2 separate regions of the Homo sapiens genome follow, and region 1 is linked to region 2. Evidence: fine-mapped expression QTL. Tissue or cell type: blood mononuclear cells. Region 2 holds a variant in brackets; the other region holds the start of a gene. Each region is shown on its reference strand, or each on the opposite one. Region 1 holds the start of SMTN (smoothelin). Region 2 overlaps LOC107986047 (a long non-coding RNA gene).

What was found. PIP is the estimated chance that this variant, and not a neighbour inherited with it, causes the effect.
Region 1: SMTN starts here. The variant in region 2 is the best candidate, but not a certain one, in a credible set for the expression of SMTN in blood mononuclear cells (TOPMed, PIP 0.88).

The regions. Positions count from the first base shown.
Region 1 is chr22:31,075,529-31,087,103 of GRCh38, reverse strand. It overlaps SMTN (smoothelin), which reads right to left and starts at 5,786. Exons shown (of 21, transcript NM_134269.3): 1 at 5,648-5,786; 2 at 3,795-3,925. The coding sequence starts at 3,845. RefSeq lists enhancers at 752-1,378, 2,597-2,666 and silencers at 1,697-1,886, 2,067-2,346, 5,745-5,904.
Region 2 is chr3:151,936,839-151,948,413 of GRCh38, reverse strand. The region is part of intron 1 of LOC107986047 (a long non-coding RNA gene); the gene reads left to right. Among named protein-coding and RNA genes, the nearest start is that of AADACL2-AS1, 14 kb to the right of the region's middle. The variant C/G (reference allele first, on the strand shown) is at 5,486.

The sequences.
Region 1 (11,575 bases), not on the chromosome of region 2:
GAGGACTGGCCCAGGGTTCCCCTGGAAGATAGTGGCAGAGATAAGCCTCCAGTGTGGGTCTGATAACCAGACGGGAGCCAGTAAAGGCGGGGTGATTTCCTCTGTCCCCACCCCCCAAATCATTCAGGGGTAGGGCCAAAGAACCCTCTATCATCTCCCTTTTTAGCGCCCCCCCGTCATTCCTTTCTGCTTAGCGGGAAGGCCAGGTGGCAAGGGTGGGGATGGGATGGAGATAGTTTTCAGCAGGGAGTGTGGGCTGGCCCAACTCAGCCATGAGCCAGCTTGTCCTAGTCTGAAGAGAGCAGGGAGAGTCTTGGGGGAAGAGCCCTCCAGGCTCCACATTCCTGAGGAATTATGAGAAGACCCCCTGAAACTCAGGCCAGAGCCCTTAGTTGGTTCCAGCCCTAGTCCAATCCTGGCTGGGTGATCAAGAGCATATCCCTTAAACTCTCTGTGTCTTGGTTTTTTCATTTGCCAGTGGGTGGGGTTGGGAACAGTGACTTGGCCTCTCCTGTACATAGCTGCAGTTGCAATAAGCATCACCCCCATACTTGGTTCTAGCCAGTCAGGAGGAGGGAGAGAGACAAGGGGGCAAATGGGAAGGGCAGGATACCCCGAGGCATCAGTAACATTTATGGAGAGCCTGTGAGTCAAACCCTGTGCTGAGCCCCCTACTTGTCCTAAGCCCACAAAAACCCTAGATACTACTGTTATTCCCATTTGACAGATGAGGAGATTGAAGTCCAGGGAGGACATGTGATTTGCTCATGGTCAAATGACCTGAGCCAGGATTTGAACCCAGGTCTCTCTGACTCCAGGGCCTGCCCTAGGCTGAAGATAGCTCTGCTACTGGGGTCTGTGTGTCATGGTGGGGACCTCAGGGATCCTGGCACTGTGTTGGAGACCCCTCTAGCCTGGACTAGAGATGCTCTGAGGCCTAAGGAGGCCTTATAGCAGAGGCGGGGGGAATGAGGCTCACTCCCCAGCCCCCGGTGCTGGCTGTGTCTCAGGCCTAGAGCCTTCTGTGGTACATTTGGAGGCTGGGGGCTGGAGGGGACAGAGGGTCCAGCCCCTTCTGTACAGAGGGTAAAGAGGCCCAGAGGGGCAAGGGCTAGCCTTTTGTCTCCTAGGTCCCCATTCTCAGTGCTCTGGGCTCGGAGATGGGGTCCTTGTCTCTGACAAAAGCCTGATGTAGGAACTTGGCCACCTCTACAGCACAACCCCCGGAGCTTCAGTGTCCCCATCTGGAAAATGGGAGCCTCCCTCTGATCCCCCAAAGTGGGTGGGCAAGGCTGGAGACTGACAACCTCATTCCACTGGTCACCCTCTGGCACGACCCTTCCCTTTGGGCCTGGAGGCAAAGGTTGGACCACAGTGTCTCCTCTGTGTGTCCCGAGTTCCACCCGCCCAGGCCCCACCGCTGTGTAAGGAGGGAGCTGTGGGAGGGAGGGAAGGAAGTACAAAGCGCCATTGTCTACCGAGGGGGAAGGGGAAGGGGATGGGGCGGTTTCCGAAACTGCCCAGTGAAATTCTCCCGGGAGGAAAGAGGGTGCTTCCTCCCCCTGGGGAGCCGGCTCTCCGTGTACTCTCTGCCCTCGCTGTTGGGAACGCCTGGCAGGCCCTGAGGTCTCACTGGGCCTCAGTCTCCCCAACAGCACAACGGAGGGGGCTCTCCAGGCTTTCAGTCCCAGCTCCCCCGGTTGCCCATGGGGGTCCCGCCGGCGGTGGAGGGAAGCCTCGCCAGGGGGCGCTGAAGGCCCGCAGGTTCTGCGACCGCCCTCCCTCGCAGGGCGCCGCCCTCGCCTCGCCCACCCTGCCTCGCGCTAGGCGCCGAAGGGGTAGCCAGGTAGGAAGACACCCGCTACCGCCTGCTTCAGTGTCCGGATCTAAAGGGAAGAAACCAAGGTCCCCAGGACACCCAGCTGAGTGGCGGAGGTCGAACTCGAACTCGGGACCGAGGCAGAGGGCGTCCCGGCGGGTGGTGGAGGGGCACGCGGCGTGCAAGTCCCCAGGCGTCCCCATTCCTCCCATCCCCGGCCCAATCCTCAAGAATGTGCGGGAGCCGGGGCCGGAAGCGACTGCCCGCGTCCCCAAATCGGCCAGACGCTGGGGCGCAGGGCGGGCGGAGCGGGCCTAGCTTTTCCTTATATGGCCCGGCCCCGCGGGGAGGAGCCCGGCTCGGGACGCCCCCGTTCTTGCCACGAGGCCAGCGGGGGCCGGGCCGGCGCGCGGGGCGCAGTAATGGCGGGCGCCGGGTGCTGGAGGAGCCGCTCCCGGGGTCGGAAAGACTTCGAGAGGCACCGATCCCGAGACCGGGGCAGGTTCTCATCTGTCCTTTCCCAGAGATTCAACCACTGCTCCAGCTTCTCTCCAAAACTCTTTTCCAGCGCCGCCCGAGCCTCGCTTAAGAGAGGGAGGTGGCGGCTGAAGAACCCTGAGCCTGCCTGTGGATACCTTGAGATGAGGATGTGCGGGAACCAGGCCTGGCATTCCCTCTTTTTGGACTGTGCTGCCTCTACGACCCCCACTGGGACTTGGACTTCCTGAGGGAAGGTCGAACTGACTGGCGGGCACCTTTGGAAACCTAACCTCATCCCCTCCAGGCTGCACACATCCTGCGGTGATAGTGGAGAGGCAGACACCCAGAGAGTCTAATGCGCTGGTCCGAGAACATACAGGCAGAGTGCCTTGGGGAGGTCATGGCAGCAGCTGGGCACTGCCCAGTGGCTGGGCTACGCTGGTTGGTTCCAGCCTCTGCCTGCGGGGGAAGGTATGAGAGTGGGGTGGGTCACTTGTCTTCTAGGTAAAGTAAATCTTTAATTTACCCCCATGGACAAGGGTCAGGGACTGAGGAGATGGAGCTCCTCTGGCCCCTCCTCCAGGTCAGGCTGCCTGGCCTTTGGGGTTGGGGAAGGAGCCCTGCCCCACTGGGTTGCCCTACGGCCTCTGTGCATGGAGGTAGACAGGGCTCTCAGGAAGAGGAACAAGAAAGGGGATGGAGTGGGCTCATCTTTCCTCCACCTGAGATCTGGGTCCATGCCTCATTCTGTCCCCATGCCAACTCTAGGACCTAGAGCTTGTGTGCAAACACATCTCCCTCCCTCCCTTCATTTTACAGGTAGAGGAACTGAGACTCAAGAGTAGAAAAATGAGATGAGAAGCCACAGAATCCATAAGGGCCCACAAAACCTGTCTCTCTCTTATGGCCTCGTCCAGCCTTGACTTTCCCAGGACTCTGGTCCCCCGTGGCCCACTATGGGGTTGGGATTTTGGCACAGCTCCTTCTTAGATGGGTGTCCTTGAGCAGGTGATTTTAACTCTCTTGAGTCGCAGTGCCCAGGCTTTCAGAGCTGCTGTGATTATTCTGTGACATGGTATACCCAGTACCCAGCCTGCCCCCTGCCAGGCCTTGGCATTATTAATCATTGCTGCTACCATTATCACTGGGCCAGCTTCCAGGGGTGGGCATTGCCCGAGCTATTGCTCTGGAGAGGCATATCCAGCCTCCCCACACCTGTGGCTGCATACGGGCGAGTCTACAGCAGTTACTGTTTAAACAGGTGGTGGCTGTGGAGGGTTGGGAGGGACTAGGCTTCAGTACCAGGCATGGACAGGCACATGCCACAAGGGCCTCTGCATCAGCCACATGGAACTGGCCTACCCCTGTTCCCATGTCCCCCTCCTCCTGACCTTTCCCCCATCACTTCTTCCTGTCAGCTGAGAGGTACCCTGGATTGACCCTGCCTCTCTGGCTTGGCTTTCCTGTCCCCACAGTGGGTGATGGGGCCACTTACCAGCTTCCGAAGGGCTCCCTCATCCAGCCCAGCTAAGGCCTCGTCCGCCATCTCGCTGGCCCCTAGCTCCGTCGGTTCCTTTCTGGTGAGATCCCCAGTGCCTGTGGCACCTGTCACCAGCTCAGAGAATTCTGCAGGGGACAGACATGAATCAGGCATGCTGGGGCTTCCAGAAACCACAGGCACTTAGGCTCTGTGCCTTACTTTCCCTCTCTAACCTAGGAGCGTCCATTACTGTCCCATCCTATAATGTGGCTCCTGGCTGGAAGCTGCCCTCTGCCCTAGGGTGGTTTGCTGGAAAACTCACCAAACCCAGGGTAGGGGGTCTCTGGTTCCAGCCCTGCCAGCTTGGCCGCCAGTCTGCTGTGTGGCCTGGGATGGACTCTCATCCTGTCTAAACCTCAAAACAGGGAGGGCAGGGACCTGGATTGAGAAGCCAGGGCCTGGCAAGACCCACCCAAGCTGTGCTTACCACCAGGGGGTGCACTCCAGTCTCCAGTTTCCTGCCCCACCCACCCATCCACAGGGCCTACCCAGCCCCCACCCACTCCGCAGGCTCAGCTTCTGGCTGTGGGCTGAACCCGTAGTTCTTGCTGCCACCACCACTGTCATTCCCCCAGGTATAGGAAGGTACACTGTGTCTTCCGATTCTTGGAGCCAGCTCTGCTGTCCAGACCTCCTGAAGCCAGGTGTCCAGGCACCCAGCACCTCCTGCCAATTCATACAGAATTCAATTCCCCACCTGGAAGGGCTTTCAGAAGCTGACCTGCCCAACCCCTGGATTTCAGGCAAACTGAGAAGATTGGAGAGGGCCAAGGATTTGTCACTGAGCAAGGAGGAAGCCAAAGACTTAGAGGGCAGAGAAGGATGTAATCAAAATCTTCGTCATCTCCGGCTTCCGAAGCTCCCTTCCAAAGTGCCCTCAAGGGCCTGGAACACTCTCAGTGACAGAGGCAAGAGCCCCATCTTGCCCCAGTGCTGCCCATCAAAATGGACCCCTAAATCCTGGCCCAGCCTCCCAGCGCAGATCTCTCCTTCCTCCTGTAGCCCCAACTAATGTCTGTCTGGAATTTGAGGGGCCCTGGTCTGGCACACTGTGGATGCTTAGTTAATGTATGGTGACTGACTAATGTGTGGCCCCAGGCCTGCCCCCCACCTCCTGTTGATTCATCTTTCAATCATCCCTTCCCTCTCTTCAGAACAGTCACTTGGGAAGTCACCCCATACGGTGCATGGGTGGGGGGTGAGGGTTACCGCTCCACACAGTTGGGGTGTGTGGGTCCCAGCCTGTTCAAGTCACTGCTTGTTCCCCCTCCCATCCTGGTAGGCTCAGAGGTGTCAACCTCCCAATCTCTGCCTGTTAGGATCCTTGCCTCTTACCTAGTTACTCTGTCTGGGTTAAACCTCTTCAAGACTGTCCAGTGGTCACCAGCCTTAGGTTCTGCGGACATTCTGATTCCCCCCATGTCTGTTCTTCTATGGGGCAGCTGACCCTAATGCCTAATCTAGGACACCCATGGGATTATAAGAAGATCCCTGCCGCTGCTCTTCTCCAATCTCCCTGTCACACAGTCTGGGGTCGCCGGACATTGTGAGGGGCCTCAGGATTCTGTGGCAGCTTCCCCAGGGTTTCTGCCGCCACAGACTAGCGCCCCTGTGGGGCGTGGAGTCTCTTAGGAATCCGGGGGCGTCTTCCCCCAACAGTCTCATAACTTTATCCCATGGCTTAGACCTCTCGTATGGGTGGGGGCTCCCAGGTCTGGACGTTCCAGAACTCCTGTCTAGACATCCGGGTTCCACCCCCGGACACGTTGGGGCAGCACCAGGATCCCCCCCGAGGTCCGCACACCCACCTCTCAGTCCAGCCCACCCGTCCGGCGCAGGCTCGGCTTAGCTCTTTCGGGACCCGACAGACGGATTAGACACGCGCAGGCCGGAGGTGCCGCGACCCGCTGTCCCAGGCCCGCTCAGCAACCGTCCCCTGGATTCTGCGGAGAGCTGCCCGTCCAGCCGCGCCAGCAGCCCGGCTGGCCCCGCCCTGCCCCGACGCGCCAGCCAACCCTCGATTGGGTACCTCCCACTCTCGTGCCCCATTGGGAAAATTCAATTTGACGGCCACGCCCCGAGAGGAAGGCCCCGCCCCTCGCGGGCCAGGGAGGTCGGAAATTGGGAGTCTTGGGGTCGTCTGCCTCGGTGGCTTTAGCGAGTCGGGTGGGCATCGGCAGGGGGACGCAGGCTCTGCGCCAAGTCGGGGGGGGCGCCCCGAGCCGAGGTAAGTTTCCTGGGGTCGTAGGAGTCTCAGAGCCTTCAGGACAGCCCCTCTCCGCCCTCCTCTTTGTTCCTGAGACCACGTCCCCTCCCTCGACTCCACCCCTTTCTCGCGTCAGTGTTTAAGCTTGGCCGCCGTCCCTAGGCTGCTTTCGGGACACCTGGTCTGAGCCACCTCAGAGCAGGGACTGAGTGACTGGCAGCACCTTGACCCTGTGTTGGAGTGCCGGGACCATCTCAGGTGGAGCAGAATCAATCACACAGCACGCCTCCCCCAGCCCACACACCTTTGAACAGACATTGCCTTCTTGTAGCATGCTTCTACCTTCCAAGCCCTGAGAGTCTGCCTTTAGGAGCGCTGGAGTCCTAAATAGGGAATATGGAGTCCAGGCTGTCATTCAGCAAAAGGGGGAAATTGAGGCCCAGAGAGAGCTGACATGTCCAAGACCAAACAAGGAATCAGCCAGGGTACCCAGGAGGTCAGATCCACAAGGCAAAGCTATTCCATCTTCAGTGCCAGAGGCCCTAAAGCCGCCCTTGGGTCTCCATGGAGACTAAAGTGGGTGGAGTTGGGAGGATGGGGTCTGGAGTCCTGTCAAATAAAAACAATAACAAATCATTTATTTTGTACTTGCCATGTACCAGGCATATAATGCCCATAACAAGCACATGAGACCATGACTATTGCCCCATTTTACAGATGAGGACAACAGCTGATAAGTAGTAAAGCTGTGATTCATACCCAGCACCTTCTGAGTCCAGACCCTGCTTTTAACCACTATAATGTGGGATTCTGGGGAGGTGGTTTCAGCCTGTTAACCCAGAAGAGCCCCGGTTCAGGTCCTCTGTGACACCCCCCAGCCCCCATCTAAGGAAAGGCCCAGTCTCCACACTGAGAGTCTTTTCCATGTGTCATTTCATTTCATCCCCACACCCCTGAGAAGTGGTCCCATTTTACACATCAGAAAACCAAGGCACGGGCCAGGTGCGGTGGCTCATGCCTGTAATCCCAGCACTTTGGGATGCCAAGGCAGGTGGATCACCCAAGGTCAGGAGTTCGAGACCAGCCTGGCCAACACGGCAAAAACCCCGTCTCTACTAAAAATACAAAAATTAGTCGGGCAAGTGGCATGCACCTGTAATCCCAGCTACTTGGGAGGCTGAGGCAGTAGAATCACTTGAACCTGGAGGCAGAGGTTGCAGTGAGCCGAGATTGTGCCACTGCACTCCAGCCTAAGCGACAGAGCAAGATTCTGTCTCAAAAAAAGAAAAAAGAAAATCAAGGCACAGAAGAAAGCGACTTGTCAATGCTACACAGCAGGAGAGGCAAACAGAGCTCACTTCGGAGGACATATTTCAAGGTCCTAGGCTTTCTCTACCTGGGCGAGATGCCATGTTATTATCCAGAACGAGGGTCAGGCGCCCTCTAAGACCAATTCTGAATACTTCAAAATTCACGCGTCCCTTGGGACCTCCCCTTCATGCAGGGCACACCTAGGCCACCTCTGATTTTCAGGGCCTGCCTGAATGGCGGTCACCAGCTCCAATGAATGGCCTGCTTTGTGCTAATGCCCTCCTTTCTCCCTGCCCTACTGTAGGCTAGGAGGAATGGTACAGGTGAGTTCCTCCATGCTTGGATTTACTGTCTGGCACATGCGCTCACTAGCCCTTGGCCCTATGGAAGGGATGTGTGGGTCCTGCCCCTTCAAGCCCTTAGTGCCTGGGTCCACCTCCAGACATACCCGCCTGCCTCTGTCTTCCTCTCTGCAAGGGAGTGGGGGTGATCTAGAGATCAAAGGGCAGTCCGGTACAGTGCTAGGGAAGTTTACAGCTACAGCCGAGGAAAGAGTAAACATCCCGTGACGAGGGCCCCAGCATTTGCTGAACACCTGTTGCATGTCAGACGTGGGGCTCCCACTACTGCCAGGTGACCACTGTGCAAGATAGGTACACTCTGATTCGACAGAGGAAGCTGAAGCTCAGGGAGGTGAAGGCACCTTGGCCTAGTAAAGGCATTCAGACTAAAGTGGAATTCTGCCTGATGCTGAAGCCCCTTCCCTCCACTTTGCTGCCACTAGGATGGGGGAAGCTCTGGAAGACTTCTTAGGGAAGTGGTGTATAAACTGTGTGTCACACTTGTTTTTATTTTATTTTATTTTTTTTGGAGACAGGGTCTTGCTGTGTCCCACAGGCTGGAGTGCAGTCGCATGATCACAGCTTACCATGGCCTCAAACTCCTGGCTCAAGCAATCCTTCCATCTCAGCCTCCCAAGAGGCTAGGACTACAGGCACACACCACCACGCCCAGCTAATTTTTAAAATTCATCCCACATAGAAGAGGGGGAAAGGCATGAAAGGGCATTTGTGGCAGAGGAACAGTGTGAGCAAAGACCAATAGTCTGGGAAAAGGAGGAGGATAGGCTGTGGGCGGAGCAGGAAATGTGGGTGGTTCTCTTTGCCAAGGATTCTGAATGCCAGATGAGCAGGATGAATGTATCTTGTGGGCACCAGAGAGGCCTGGGCCTCAGCCTGCCCCCTGTAAAATGAGGTGATTAGACTGGTCTGCTTCAAGCCTTCCTAGGGCAAGGGGCTGTCACAGAAAGGGTCTACTCTAGGTTCTTCCAGGTTCAACCCTGGAAAGGCAGAATGGGAAGTGGCTGGAGCAGCTCAGAGGCTAGGGGTAATATTTTGCTCCAGAGCTCAAGTCTGAGAATGACTATTTTACCAAGCTGTCTGTGTTGCATCCCTAAGTCACCCTGGCTAACCCTCCACCCAGTCAGGGTCCTTCAGAGAAAGCCCAGGCCTTGGGTCAGGAGGCAAGAAGGGTGATGGGTGTCTTACCCCTGGCTCCAACCCTAGGTAAGGGTTGGCCCTCTTGGAGCTTCAACTTGCTCATATGCACAATGGAGGAGCTGTGCCTTGGGCTCTCTAAGCCTCTCTCCCCAGGACAGCACTGTCATTCTGGAGACGGGAACAGCATTAGCAAAGGAACGGAAGTAGGATTGTGACGACCTTGTTGGGCAACAGACAGGCAGGTGAGGCTGGAGAATGGAGCCCCTAGAGGTGGATGGTTCTTGTTGGGGTTGGCTGGATCCAAGGGGTATGACCTTCCTCCTTATGTGCAGAACTGGATGCGTCCTAGGTCATGGCCAGCAGCCCTCGGAGTGGGACTGAGGACCTGCTGGGAAACCAGTTTGGCAAGGCCATCATCTCCAGGATGTCATCCAGCCGCTGTGTTCTCTGGGCAACAGTGCCAGGCAAACTTCTGGCCCTGCAGGAGGAGAAGGGGCCTCAGATGCCCACTGGGCAGCAGTGAATTCCAGGAGACCCAGCCTCACAGACAAAGGAGAGGCAAGGGGCTGGAACAGGAAGGAGAGAGTTCTGGATGTGCCAGCCTGGACCTCTTTAGACTTCTGGGAGTCCCTGATGCCTGGGCGCAGGGAGTGGGGGTCTAGGCTCATGGTGGGACACTATGTAATTGCTACCTGATGGGTTGGACACTGGCTCCTGATCATGCTTATACTACATGTGTGGCAATTTTGTTACCACTATGACCTTCACAGCTTGAGTCCTGTGAGGTAGGACCACCATTATACAGATAAGGAGACAGGCTCAGAACCCTCGTTCTTTTGTTGTTTTTTTTTTTGTTTTGTTTTGTTTTTGAGACAGAGTCTCACTCTGTCGCCCAGGCTGGAGTGGAGTGGCACAACCATGGCTCACTGCAGCCTTGACCTCCCAGGCTCACAGTGGGACTACAGACACGTGCCACCATGCCTGGCTAATTTTTTTATTTTTTGTAGAGACAAGGGTCTCCCTATGTTGCCGGGGCTAGTCTCGAACTCCTGGGTTCAAGAAATCCGCCTGCCTTGACCTTCCAAAGTGCTAGGATTACAGGCGTGAGCCACTGCGCCCGGCCAGAACATTTGTTCTTAATCACCATATTCTACCATCCACCATTTGGAAGCTCCACTTGGATGACGCCTGAGCACTGGGGAGACCTGGGCCTCAGTCTGCCCATCTGTAAAATGAGGGGGTTTGACTCGCCTCCTTCAGGCCCTCCTAGGGCAAAAAACTGTAACAAGAAGGGTCTAGATTCTTCCAGGTTCAGCTCTGGACTGGCAGAGTAGGGAGTATCTGGAGCAGCTCAGGGGCTGAGGGTATTTTGGCTCCAGAGTCCAGTCCGAGAATGAATATTTTACCAACCTGTCAGTGTGGGATCCCAGCAAACCCTTCTCTCTACTTCTGAACATAGCACCTGAATCTTGGCATCACAGAGTCCTAGATACCCACCTTATGGTTCAAATAGGTAACTGAGTCCCAGAGAGGACAAGGGACAGGCTTCAGGTAGTGTAGCAAATCAGGAGCAGAGCCATTCTGCATCCCAGATTCTCAACCTCTCAAAACTTTGTTTCCTCCTCAGGGCCTGGCACACTTAAGCATGAAATAACTGACACATATTGAGTGCCTATGGCATACCATGCACTCATGTAACCATCACCACAGCCCTATAAAGCAGATGCTAATGTTCTGTCCCTTTTATGGGCAAAGAAACTGAGGCTCAGAGAGGGGAAGTCATTTGTCCAAGTTGACACTGCATGTTGGTGGTAGCGAAGGGATTTGAACCCAGGTATATAGGCCCTTCCCCCTCAGCAGATCCAGTAAGCCTCACTGGAGGCATGAAGACCTGTAGACAGCGGGGTGGATGGCTCCTTTGCCGGTTCTGAAGGCACGCAGTGTCCAATTCAGAGTTTCCACGCAGGCCTGGCCTCTCTGGGGCAGGGAGAAAAGTGCTGAGGCTGCAGAAGGGCTCTGCATCTTCCCAGAGGAGGCGGCCACGGTGGGAGGGAGTGCTCTGCAACAACCTCAGAGCCAAGTGTAGACGTGGCGGCTGGACCAGCTGCAAGCAAGGGAAGGCAGGCAGGGTGGGGCCCAAACCCAAACCCAGCCTCCAAGCCGTGTTCCCAGCCTTCCGCCAGCCAGGCCCTGCCCTACCCGCCCTTCTCGATCCCCATCTGGATTTGAGATGAGGACGCCGGGCCTAATAATAGCCAAATGGCACGGAGGCAGTGCCTGGAGCCACTGCCAGTTGGGGCCTGGGGTCCCCCATGGTCTCATATTGGCCTCCAACAGGGTTCAGAACTTTAAAAGTACTGCATTCCAGCCTGGGCGACAGAGCGAGGCCTTGTCTCAAAAACAAAAACAAAAACAAAACAAAACAAAACAAAAACCCTTTAAAATAGCAACTGCTTATGAAGTTTATAATATGTGCTGGGCACTGGGCTAAAGCTTAGCCCACAGTAACTTACTTATTCCTCACCCTACCCCCACTGGCTAAGACTATTCCTTTTTTTTTTTTTTTTTAAGACAGAGTCTCGCTCTGTCACCCAGACTAGAGTGCAGTGGCGCAATCTTGGCTCACTGCAACCCCTGCCTCCCGGCTTCAAGTGATTCTCCTGCCTCAGCCTCCCAAGTAGCTGGGATTACAAGGGCCCGTCACCACGCCTGGCTAATTT
Region 2 (11,575 bases):
GGGAAGAAAGACTTAAAAACGAGTCCCTAAACCCTCTTTTTGACCAAACTTTAGCAGCTCCTGTGAATCCTCTTTTGAACCAGGCCTCATCCTAGGACCCTGTCTTTGATTCTTGTTCTTTGAATCCAGTTTTAGCAAGAATTCTTCATTCCTTTTTTCCCTGTTCCATGAGTCCAGTTTTTAAATCCTGCCAAGTCAATTTAGAGAGAATCCTCCACTCTTCATACCTGGTCACCCTGACCTGTTATCAGTAAGAACCCTGTTAAGACTGTTTAGCCAGAATTCCCTACCTTTGATGTCTCCTCTTAGCAATTCTCCATTCATGACCCCCTCACTCTTCTCATAGGCTATAGACACCTTGTTGCTTTTGCTGTATTCAGAGTTGAACCCAATCTTGACCACCTATTACAATATTCAGGACATCGATTACAATAGCTCTGATAAAGTCTTCCTTATAGTTTTAACAAGTGTCAGAATAAGTTTTTCTTTAACACCCTACAGTATTATAACTACAAGTCTAATCTTATATCAATTTGAAGTTAGAATTCATATTACTTATGTGATATGAACAAATTCAAGTATTTAACTTTAAGTGATCTTAAATTGTTAATGCACTCAGATAACTTCCAGAAATGAAGAGAAATCCTCTCAGGAAGAATCTACCTTAATCCCAGTCGTGGAAAACCATGGAGATAGAAGCTACGGAAAACCTCAAAAACCATAGCTCTCAGGGAGGAGCACCTTTGATGCCATCGGGTGTAGCTGCATTTTCAAAAGGATGGGGCAAATGCCATTGCTTTTTATATCTTTCAGTCCTTGCTCCAGTAGAGCGAGAATGTGTGCTCCATCATAGAAATGCATTACAGAGTTTGACAAGAGTAATTTCATGAGACAGCCCACCAAAAAATGAAGCCACAGGAAGCCAAAGTACTGGGGAGACTGTGGAGAGAAAGGAGCTCAGAAAAGTGACCCAAGAAAGTCCTTTAGGAATGATAGGACTTTCATGTAACCTGCATATGCATAGATCTGACCCCAAACAGCACATCAAAGATCTATGAGCACTGAACTAACAGATAGTCTAGGTCCCAGACTGAACACTGTGGAGTGCATACCCAGGAGAGAGCAAACAGCACAACAAAGGTTTGGAACACTGAACTAACACTGGAACCACAGTCTATAGGGGGTGGGTTAGAACTTGTGGGAGGCTGAGGAGGGTGGATCACTTGAGGTCAGGACTTCAAGACTAGCCTCACAAACATGGTGAAACCCTGTCTCTGCTAAAAATACAAAATGAGCCTGGCACGGTGGTGTACACCTGTAATCCCAGCTACTTGGGAGGCTGAGGCAGGAGAATCACTTGAACCCAGGAGGCAGAGGTTGCAGTGAACCGAGATCATGCCACTGCACTCTAGCCTGGGCAACAAGAGTGAAACTCCATCTCAAAAAAAGAAACAAACAAACAAAAACTTGTGGCCCAAACCTACTGAAACAAAATATTAACAATCTGCGTAGAATTTAAACAAGACTCCAAAGAATCTTGAAGTAATTCACAAAATGTCAAAAATGACTCAGCATAGAAAGAAGCACAAACATTTCAATTCACATGAGAAAAGACAATCAACAGACAGCAAAGCTGAGATGACAATAGATGTTGGAATTAGCTGACAAAGACTTTAAAGTAGCTATTATACAAATGTTTCCAGAAGCAATTGTGAACACTCTTGCAACAAAGGTTAAACAAAAAGCTTTAGCAAAGAAATCAAAGATATAAAGAACCAAACTGAAATTTTAGGATGGGAAAATACAATAAACACCTTCTTCTATCCTCCAATAAAAATCTCACTGAGTTCAACAGCAGGATGGAGATAACGGAGCACAGAGTCAGTGAACTTGAAGACGGATCAGGAGAAAAAACTCATTTAACCGAAACAAGACAAAGAAAACAACTTACAAAAGAACAAAATCTCAAGGACCAACAGGATGATACCTGAAGATCTAACCATGCCACTGGAGTTTCAGAAAGATAGGGTAATGATGAAAAAAATAAAAAATAATGACAGAAATCTTCCAAACTTTATTTTTTAGAAAATGTATAAAAGAAGTGAAGCAAATCCCAAATAGGATAAACTCAAAGAAATCTATGCACAGACATATCATAATAAAACTGCTGAAAACCGAAGACGAAGAAAAAGTGCTTAAAGCAGCCAAAGAAAAGTGACACATTAACTATAGGGGAAGAATGATTTAGAAACTTCAATACTTCTCATCAGAAATCATGGCAGACAAGAAGAAATGCTGAAAGAAAAAACTGTCAATTCCTAATTAAGAAAATGTTTTATTATGTTTAATCCAGAATTTTATATCTAAATGAAATATCCTTCAGTAGTGAAATTCTCACTACTGAAGGATATTTCATTTAGATAGGATATTTCATTTAGATATAAAATTAAAAATGTCCTCAGATGAAAGAAAACTGAAAGAACTTGTATCTATCAGTCATGCTTTAAAAGAATTTCTAAAGGAAGGTTTTTAGATAGAAGGGAAATTGTTTCTGAAACAAAACACTTGAAACTCCAGGAATTAAGGGAGAAGAAAAGAAAGAGCAACATTTCAATGAAAAGTTGTCATAGTTCATTTGGGCTTCTCTAAAGAAATACGATAAACCAGGGTAGGTTATAAACAACAGAAATTTATCTCTCAGAGTTCTCAAGACTGGGAAGTCCAAGATCAAGGGGTAGCAGATTTAGTGTCTGCTAAGAGCTTGTTTCCTGGCTCATAGATGGCACCTTCTTAGTGTATCCTCACATGATGGAAGTGGCAAACAACCTCCCTTAAGCCTTTTTTTAAAATAAGAGTACACTAATCTCATTCATAAGGGCTCTACCTTTGTGATCTAATCAAATCCCAAAGATCCTACCTCTTAAAACCATCACCTTGGGGGTTAGGATTTTAACATGTGAACTTTGAGGGGAAACAAATATTCAGACCAAAGCAAATGTAATAAGTTAGTCTTCTTATCTTGAATTCTTTTACCCAAAAGAAGACTTAAAATAGGAAACAGAGTAATATAAAATAAGGGGAATAAGTACAAAACCAGAAAATAAAATGATAGTCCTAAATCTAAACCCATCAATAATTAATTTAAACATAAATGGTCTGGACACACCAATTAAAAGACAGAGATGGTTGGAGTGATTTTAAAAATTACTTATATGCTGCAAAGAGAGCCACTTAAAATATAGTTACACAGATAGGTTAAAAGTAAAATGATGAAAAATAATATACCACATATATTAGTCCTTTTCACACTGTTAATAAAGATGAGCCCAAGACTAGGCAATTTACAAAAGAAAGAGGTCTAATAGACTTACAGTCCCACATGGGTGGGGAGGCCTCACAATCATGGCAGAAGGCAAGGAGGAGCAAGTCACATCTTATGTGGATAGCAGCAGGCAAAGAGAGAGCTTGTTCGAAGAAACTTACCCTTATAAAACCATCAGATCTTGTGAGACTTATTCACCATCATTAGAACAGCACGGGAAAGACCTGCCCCATGATTCAATTACTTCCTACTGGGTCCCTCCTACAACATGTGGGAATTCAAGATGAGATTTGGGTGGGGACACAGCCAAACCATATCACTACACAAACACTAATCAAACAAAAACTGGAATGACTATGTTAATATCACAAAGCAGACTCAGAGCAAAGATTACCAGGAATAAAGATGGACATTACATAATAAAAAGGCTTAATTTACCAAGAAGACATAAGAATTATCAATTTATATGAGCTAAGCCACAGATCTTCAAAACACACAAAGCAAAAACCTACAGCATTGAAAGAAAAAATAGACATATCAGCAAATATAGTTGGACAGTCAACATTTCTTTCTTAGTAACAGAAAGGACTAGTTAACAGAGTTAGCAAGGATATAGAAGAACAAAACAATGCCATCAACCAACTTTATCTACTTGATTTTTATAGAATTCTATCCAAAGATAGCAAAATACACATTATTTTGAGGGACACATGGAATATTCATCAAGATAGATGATATTCTGGCTCATAGTCACACATTAACAAACATAATTGAAATCACACAAAGTATGTTCTCTGACCATAATGGAATTATACTAGAAATAAATAACAAAAGAAAAAAACAAAACCTTCAAATATTTGAAAATTAAAGCTCATGATTCAAAATAATATGAGTCAAAGAAAATGTTTCAAGAGAAATTAGAACACATTTTGAATGAAAATGCAACATAACAAATTAAGTCAAATTTAGTTAAAGCAATGCACAAAGGGAAGATGTGTAACAGTAAATACATACATTATAAAAGGAGGAAAGTCTCTGTAATCTCAATTTCCGGTATAAGAAACTATAAAAACAATAGTAAAATAAGAAGCAGAAGAAAATACAGTTATGTGTCACAACAGTATTTTGGTCAATGATGGACTGCATGTACGACAGTAGTCCCAAAAGATTATAATGGAGCAGGAAAATTCCTATCACCTAGTTGACATTGTAGGTCCCAGTGCATTGCATGAACTTTGCTATATCTGTGTATCTAAACATAGATACACAAGTGCCATTCTGTTGTGGTTGCCTGCAGTATTCAGTAGAGCAACATACTGTATAGGTTTGTAGCCTAGCAGCAATAGGCATACCATATAGCCTAGTGCTATATCAGATGTGCAGGAGGTCATACCATCTAGGTTTGTGTAAATACACTCTGATGTTTGTACAACAAAATTGCCTAACAATGCATTTCTCAGAGCATATCCCTGTCGTTAAGCAATGCATCTTGTAATACATATAAGAACAGAAATTGTTAAAATTGAAAACAGAAAACAATAAACAAATTTTTCTTTTTCTTTTCTTTTCTTTTTTTTTTTTTTTTTTTTTTGAGACGGAGTCTCTCTCTGTCCCCCAGGCTGGAGAGCAGTGGCCAGGCCTCAACTCACTGCAAGCTCCGCCTCCAGGGTTCACGCCATTCTCCTGCCTCAGCTTCCTGAGTAGCTGGGACTACAGGCGGCGCCACCACGCCTGGCTAATTTTTTGTATTTTTAGTAGAGACGGGGTTTCACCGTGTTAGCCAGGATGGTCTCGATCTCCTGACCTCGTGATCTGTCCACCTCCGCCTCCCAAAGTGCTGGGATTACAGGCGTGAGCCACCGCGCCTGGCCAATGAACAAATTTTTTAAATTGTGCTTTAAAAAAAAAAAAAGCAAGACCAATAAACTTAATAAATATCTACAATGATTAACAAAGAAAAAAATAGAGGATGTAAATTACCAATACTAGGAAAGAGAGAGAGGATTTCGTTACAAAATCCAAAGATATCAAAAGAATAATAACAGAGAATTTCAAGATAAATAGGCAACTCAACTAGTCCTCTGTCTATTAAAGAAGCTGATTTTATACTTAAAAGTTCCTAAAAAAGAAGTATCCAGAACAAAAAAGCAAGACAAAGACTAA[C/G]ATGTTTAACAATTCAAAAGAAACACAAAATTCTCAATACAGTGGTCTCCCCCTTATCCTCAGGGGATATGTTCCAAGATCCCTAGTGGACGACTGAAACTGAGGATGCTACTAAACCGTGTGTGTGTGTGTGTGTGTGTGTGTGTGTACACACTATGTTTCCCTCCCATAAATACATACCTATGATAAAGTTTAATTTACAAAGTAGGCAGGGTAATATATTCACAACAATAACTAATAATAAAATAGAATAATTAAATGTTATGCTGTAATACAAGTTAGGTGAATGTGGTCTCTTTCTCTCTCTCAAAATATCTCATTGTACTCTACTCACTTACATTCAAACTATGGAATATGAGAAGATGCCTAACTTCACTAGCAATAAAAAAGCAAGTTAGAACCACAAGAGTTACCATGTCTTACCCAATCTTTAGGTGAAAAACTAAATCTGACACTGTCATGTTGGCATATATGTGGAGCAACAGGAACTTATGAATATTGGTGGTATGATGTATAAATTGGCCCAAACATTTAAAAAATAGATCAACATTTCATAGGAAGTTTGAATATGCTCATAATATATGATCTAAGGATTTCACTCCTGGAATAAATGTATAAAAATTAATAACATATTACAGGAAATAACCAAAATGTCCGACAATGGTAGAATGGAAAATACATTGTAGACTGGTTTTAAGGTGGAACACTGTTCAGCAGGGAAACTGAATGAGAGACAGTTACATGTGAGCTTTGCCCAGTGAATCTACCCAAACCTCATATTGAATGAAATAAGTAAGACATAGACATTATAGTGTAGGAATTCATATTCATAAGGTTCAAAAATAGGAGAAATATATCCATAAGTGGTAAAATCATTTAAAGCCGAAAGAACGTGGGATGATTATTATAAAAGTCAAAATGACGAAAACCTCTGTTTGTAGGATGGGAAGGTGATATAATTGGGAAGATGTATAGAGGATTTGGAAAAAACTGGCCAGTCTCTATTTCTTAACCTCAGCAGTGGACACATAGGTGCATCATTTACTAAAATTATTTAAGTCAATATATGCATTTATATATTGTTTTGTATGAATGATATTTTCTAATAAATGGAAAATTGCAAAGTGAAATAAACCACTTTTTATGAAATACCGAAACTGAATTACTGTGCTTGTCCAAAAAGCTGCATCCTGATGTGGGATATTTGGTTATAATTTTTCTCATTCTAACACATTCCAGTTTTGAACTCTTGACTCTTTGAAATGCCAAATGTAATTATAATGCGGTATTTTGTTTAAGCATGTGCAATTAAAAGGGCACCATTGAATTGTGGTAGTGTGTAATGTTTCCCAGCTGCTAAAGGTAGAGGACATAATTTTATGATGTGTATTTGCTCCTACCAAAGACTCTCTATTTTATAGATTTATATGATATTAGAAAGCTCTCCTTCATTCCACTACTCTCTATCTGGGTTTATAGGTTAGAAGTGAATTATAGTTTGGTACAGGAGTCAAAAGCCTGCCTTGAGAGTGCTGGCCCTTCATTTCAGGAAAACTACTCAGGGATAAAATGGCCAGTTTTTGAAGCCAGAATTGTCAGGGCATTATTGCTTATTTTATGCAGTTTTAAATATGCCAAGGACATATTTGGAGCTATGCTGAGAAGAAAGGGATCCCTGTCCAGTTAATTAAAACATGACTTTTAGCAAGTTGCAAGTAGAGAAGGTTCATAGGAACAAATTATAAATCTGCTTATTTATCTTCTACCACATTGTCTTTTACAGAATACTCTTTAACCCACTGTATTTCACATCTCAGCAGTTTCTTCTTCCCCATGATTCCTAAGACTTTTTTCTATCTTTGAAAACTAGAATGTAGCTCTTAGTTTTCCTTCCTGGATAGTTAATTCATACAAGATTCTGTGTGGATTACAGAATCAGACCCAGTTTTTAGAAGACTTGCTTCCTTGCTATCATACATCTTGTGTTATATAGTTTTCCTTGCTAGGTCATGTCTACATATAAATAGGCACATTTATCTGGAGATTTAAATTAATTACTATTTTTCATAAAATGGTATAAAATGAACTTTGACACTGGCTAGGGCTACTGAATTCTAGCCCTTTTCTATGTAAGTCATGAATATATTTGAAGACTACTGTATTTTTGCAGTGAAAATATAAGTAGCAGTGTTTTCACCATGTAATACAATAGTTACAGTGTTCCCTGAAAAGTCATGCTCTGTGCACTTAATTCAACTTGGCAGAAAACACCATTCCTTCTGTAGAAGATACTACTACTATGCACAGAAATTTATACAAGAAAGTATGTTTGCGGGCCTCTTGGAGCTAAAGTTTAAAACTTGCAACCTCAACTGGATCAAGTTTTCTGTGAATATTCTGTGGGAACGAAAAATATTTAGAGCAGAACTTTAACAATTCCTAAACAGACATCCATATACATGTGAACGTATGTGTGTGTATTTATTGATTTATTTTTATTTCATCCAAATAATTCACCTTGAACAACCAATTGAGATGAAATCAATCCATCAGATTTGAGAGATAACTAGCTTTCATCTTATACAGGCAATATATGGAGATAGGTCCCCAAATACCTAAATATTAAAATTTCCAAATCTTATTATTTTAGTGGTACTCAGCCATAATAAATCAAAGCAAGTGATTCTCTTATTACATTTTTGTTTGTTTTAATTATATTGAAATATTGTATATGCACATATACATATGCAAAGACCATTGATGTATAGCTTAACAGATCTTAACAAAACAAAAAAAACCCAGGACCCATATCCAGAGACAGAATAATACTGTATCTTAGAAGTCTCCCTCATATCCTCTTCCAGTCACACTCTGTCTCCACAAAAAAAGCTGCTGTCTGACTTTTATTACCACATTAATTTTTCCTGCCTTTGAACTTTATGTAAATAAAATCATAACATGTACTTGTTTGTGTCTTTCTTTCCTACTCAAGAATATGAGATTCATTTATGCTGTTTTATATATTTGTATTTTGCTCATTCACATTACTGTTTTGTATAAAATAATTATTTTGAGGTATAATCTATTATTAAAATACTAATTAGGCTGGGCATGGTGGCTCGCTCCTGTAATCCCAGCACTTTGGGAAATGGAGGCTGCTGATCACTTGAGGTCAGGGGTTTGAGACTAGCCTGGCCAACGTGGTGAAACCCCGTCTCTACTAAAAATAAAAAAGTTAGCCAGGCATGGTGGCACACACCTGTAATCCCAGCCACTCGGGAGGCTGAGGCAGAAGAATCGCTTGAAACCCAGGAGGCAGAGGTTGCAGTGAGCCGGGATCGTGCACTGCACTCCAGCCTGGACGACAGAGTGAGACTGTCTCAAAAAATATAAAATAAAATACCAATTTGAGGGAGACTGGTTCAAACCCAGTGGTAACAGGACATAAAAGGGATCAAAGGAGCTACAGGAAAGCTAATAGCTTCTTTTTCTAACTCCTCCATCCTGTATAGAAAAGATTTGTTTATTCCTTATTTTATATAAGTACAACTTGCTAACCGATTGTGCAACTGGAGCTCCTTATTTCTTATTTCAATTAGCGAAACCCTATTATCAGGCTATTGGCATTTACCTTATTCTAATTTAGCAGACCTTGGCGATTGGCTGACATAAAAGCCATTAACAACACCTTTGCCCCTTTCCACTTTCCTCTATAAAAGCTGAAAGGGCCAAATATATTATTTTCAATCATGTTACTACTAAAAGTGACCATGTGATACAGTCTTGACCAGTTAAATTTAAGAGGGAGTTTCTGGGGATTTCTGGAAAAACCTTTGCTTTTTTTACTAAAGATAGTAGCGTAAGAGGAGAGAAGCTTAATGACATTCTTTACCTCATCTTCCTGCCTTGCTGCTGGATATGATTCCTGGAACTTCAGCAGCCCTTTTGGGACCATGAAGCAATGAGCATGGAAGTGAAAAGGTAACACATCAAAGTGATCAAGTCCAAAGGTTATGGTAATCAAAGACTTTGATTATACTATTGTGATACTGAACACATTTTTAGACTTATTGTTAAGCAAAATAGAAATTTCCTTATAATTTAACCCCATTGTTAGAGCTTTCCTTAATTGCAGCCAAAAGTGTATCCGATATACCATTTATCTGGATATTTAAGATAGAGGCATGCACCTTAAAAATTGCATGAAATTATGCTGTATTTTATATTAGCTTCTTGAAAATCAACAACATCTTGATTAGAAGAGTAAAACTGAACTGTGCCTATCACACAGATGAATTCTGATGACTTATGAAACACCTGAAATGCTTTCAGTTGCTTGATTTCTTCAAAACAACACTCTTTATTTCTTGATATTGTAGACTTAACATGAGAAAACAATCAAATACTTTATATTTAAGCCCCTCCTGGTATACTTGGGAATTCTGGTGGTAGGTGCTAGCTAAGCACCTACCAGAAATCCCTTGAAGTCAATAGACTTCAAACATGATTATTATCTCAGCAGTCACAGAAAATATCCTTTTACATCTTCCTTCAAAGAGGCAGACTACTGTCATTATAGTTCTTAAATGTTTATTGTCTCATTAAATTACCAATTTCCCATAGACTTTTGGTCTGCAGTTTCGGAGTTAGGATTCTGGGAGAGAATGGTGGAGATAGTAATACAAGAGTAGTCCTTTGGCTCTTCGTGTTGAAAACTGATTACCTCTTAATTTGCAGGTAATTATCCTTATTTGTACCAAACATTCCTCTATCTCTCACTTGCTGATTTTCTGTGGCTGCATCTAGGTCAGCATAAATGACTTTAGGCTAAGTTTCTTTTGATTTAAAACAAATCTAATATCTTAAAGTTAGATAGCTGTTATCCAGTGGGTATTGCATGAGCATTGGCAACCTGTCATATAACACAACATCTTATTAACAACTTGTATTTCCTATACTTTTGTGTGTGGAGACCATATGCTATGTTGAATTGGTTTAAACAATGTAGTCAGAAAGGCTGCCCTGAAATTTTATTTTTGGTAATACATTAGTAGAGAAGTTGAGGGATTACGAGAAAGTTTATGTTAAAATTCTTGTTATGCTTCTTTGGAGAAGGACTATTTTTATATAATTAAGAGGCCAATTATTGAATGTTTCTATTCTTTTTGTACGCTATAGCAAGAAAATTAGGGAGTTAGGGTTTAAAGAACAAATGTATGGCATTTGTGAAGTTGAAAACAACCTCTGGATACTCAAATCTCCCGCTTTTGATCAGTCTCAACTCTTTAATGGACCTTATTCACTTAAGCTATAAATCACATTGTGGCATGAAAATAATGACAAGCATTTCAGAAAAGCCAGAAATGTGTAATTATGAGTATTTATTCTTTTTAAAGCACTAATTGTAAGCAGAGGGAAAGCACCAAGGAGCCCCAATCTAATATTTTTAATGTACATTTTTCATATCATATTAAAATTTTAGTGTTTTAATAAATGTAGGAAGATGAATGGGAAAAATGAAATTGCTTATGGAAATAAATGTACACAAATATGTACATTTTCTAAATGATGATTAATAATATAGTTAAAGCCCATGGACATGCAGTATTATTTATCAGACTACATCCAAGCAGGGTGGAAGCAAAAAACACTTATGCAGCATGTAAGCCAGCCTCTGACCAGCTTTGGCACCTAAACAGGAGTCATATTTTTGTAGGCATGAATGTGTTTTGAACAATGAATCAAATGTCTTCTGCACAGATAGGGTTTTATTTAACACCAGAACCATGTCTTTTTCTACTTACATTTCCTGGAAAATAAGTACAAATTTTGTAACCAGTCTATGAATAATTAAGTACCTTCTCATGAATGACAGACTTCAGAAGGTTCAGAATTTCAACCTGGGTAAACAAGTATATATTTGTATGTCTGTCTAGGTTTATGTGTACCTAAACTCCATTCCATAAACCATCTCACAAAAATGTTTCTGAAGCCCTCTCCTGCCTCCCACTTCCCACATTTCATGAAAAGATATGTGTGTGGAGGATGGTGGCTCTTCATAGGATTCTATTTAAGTGTTTCTGTCTTGAG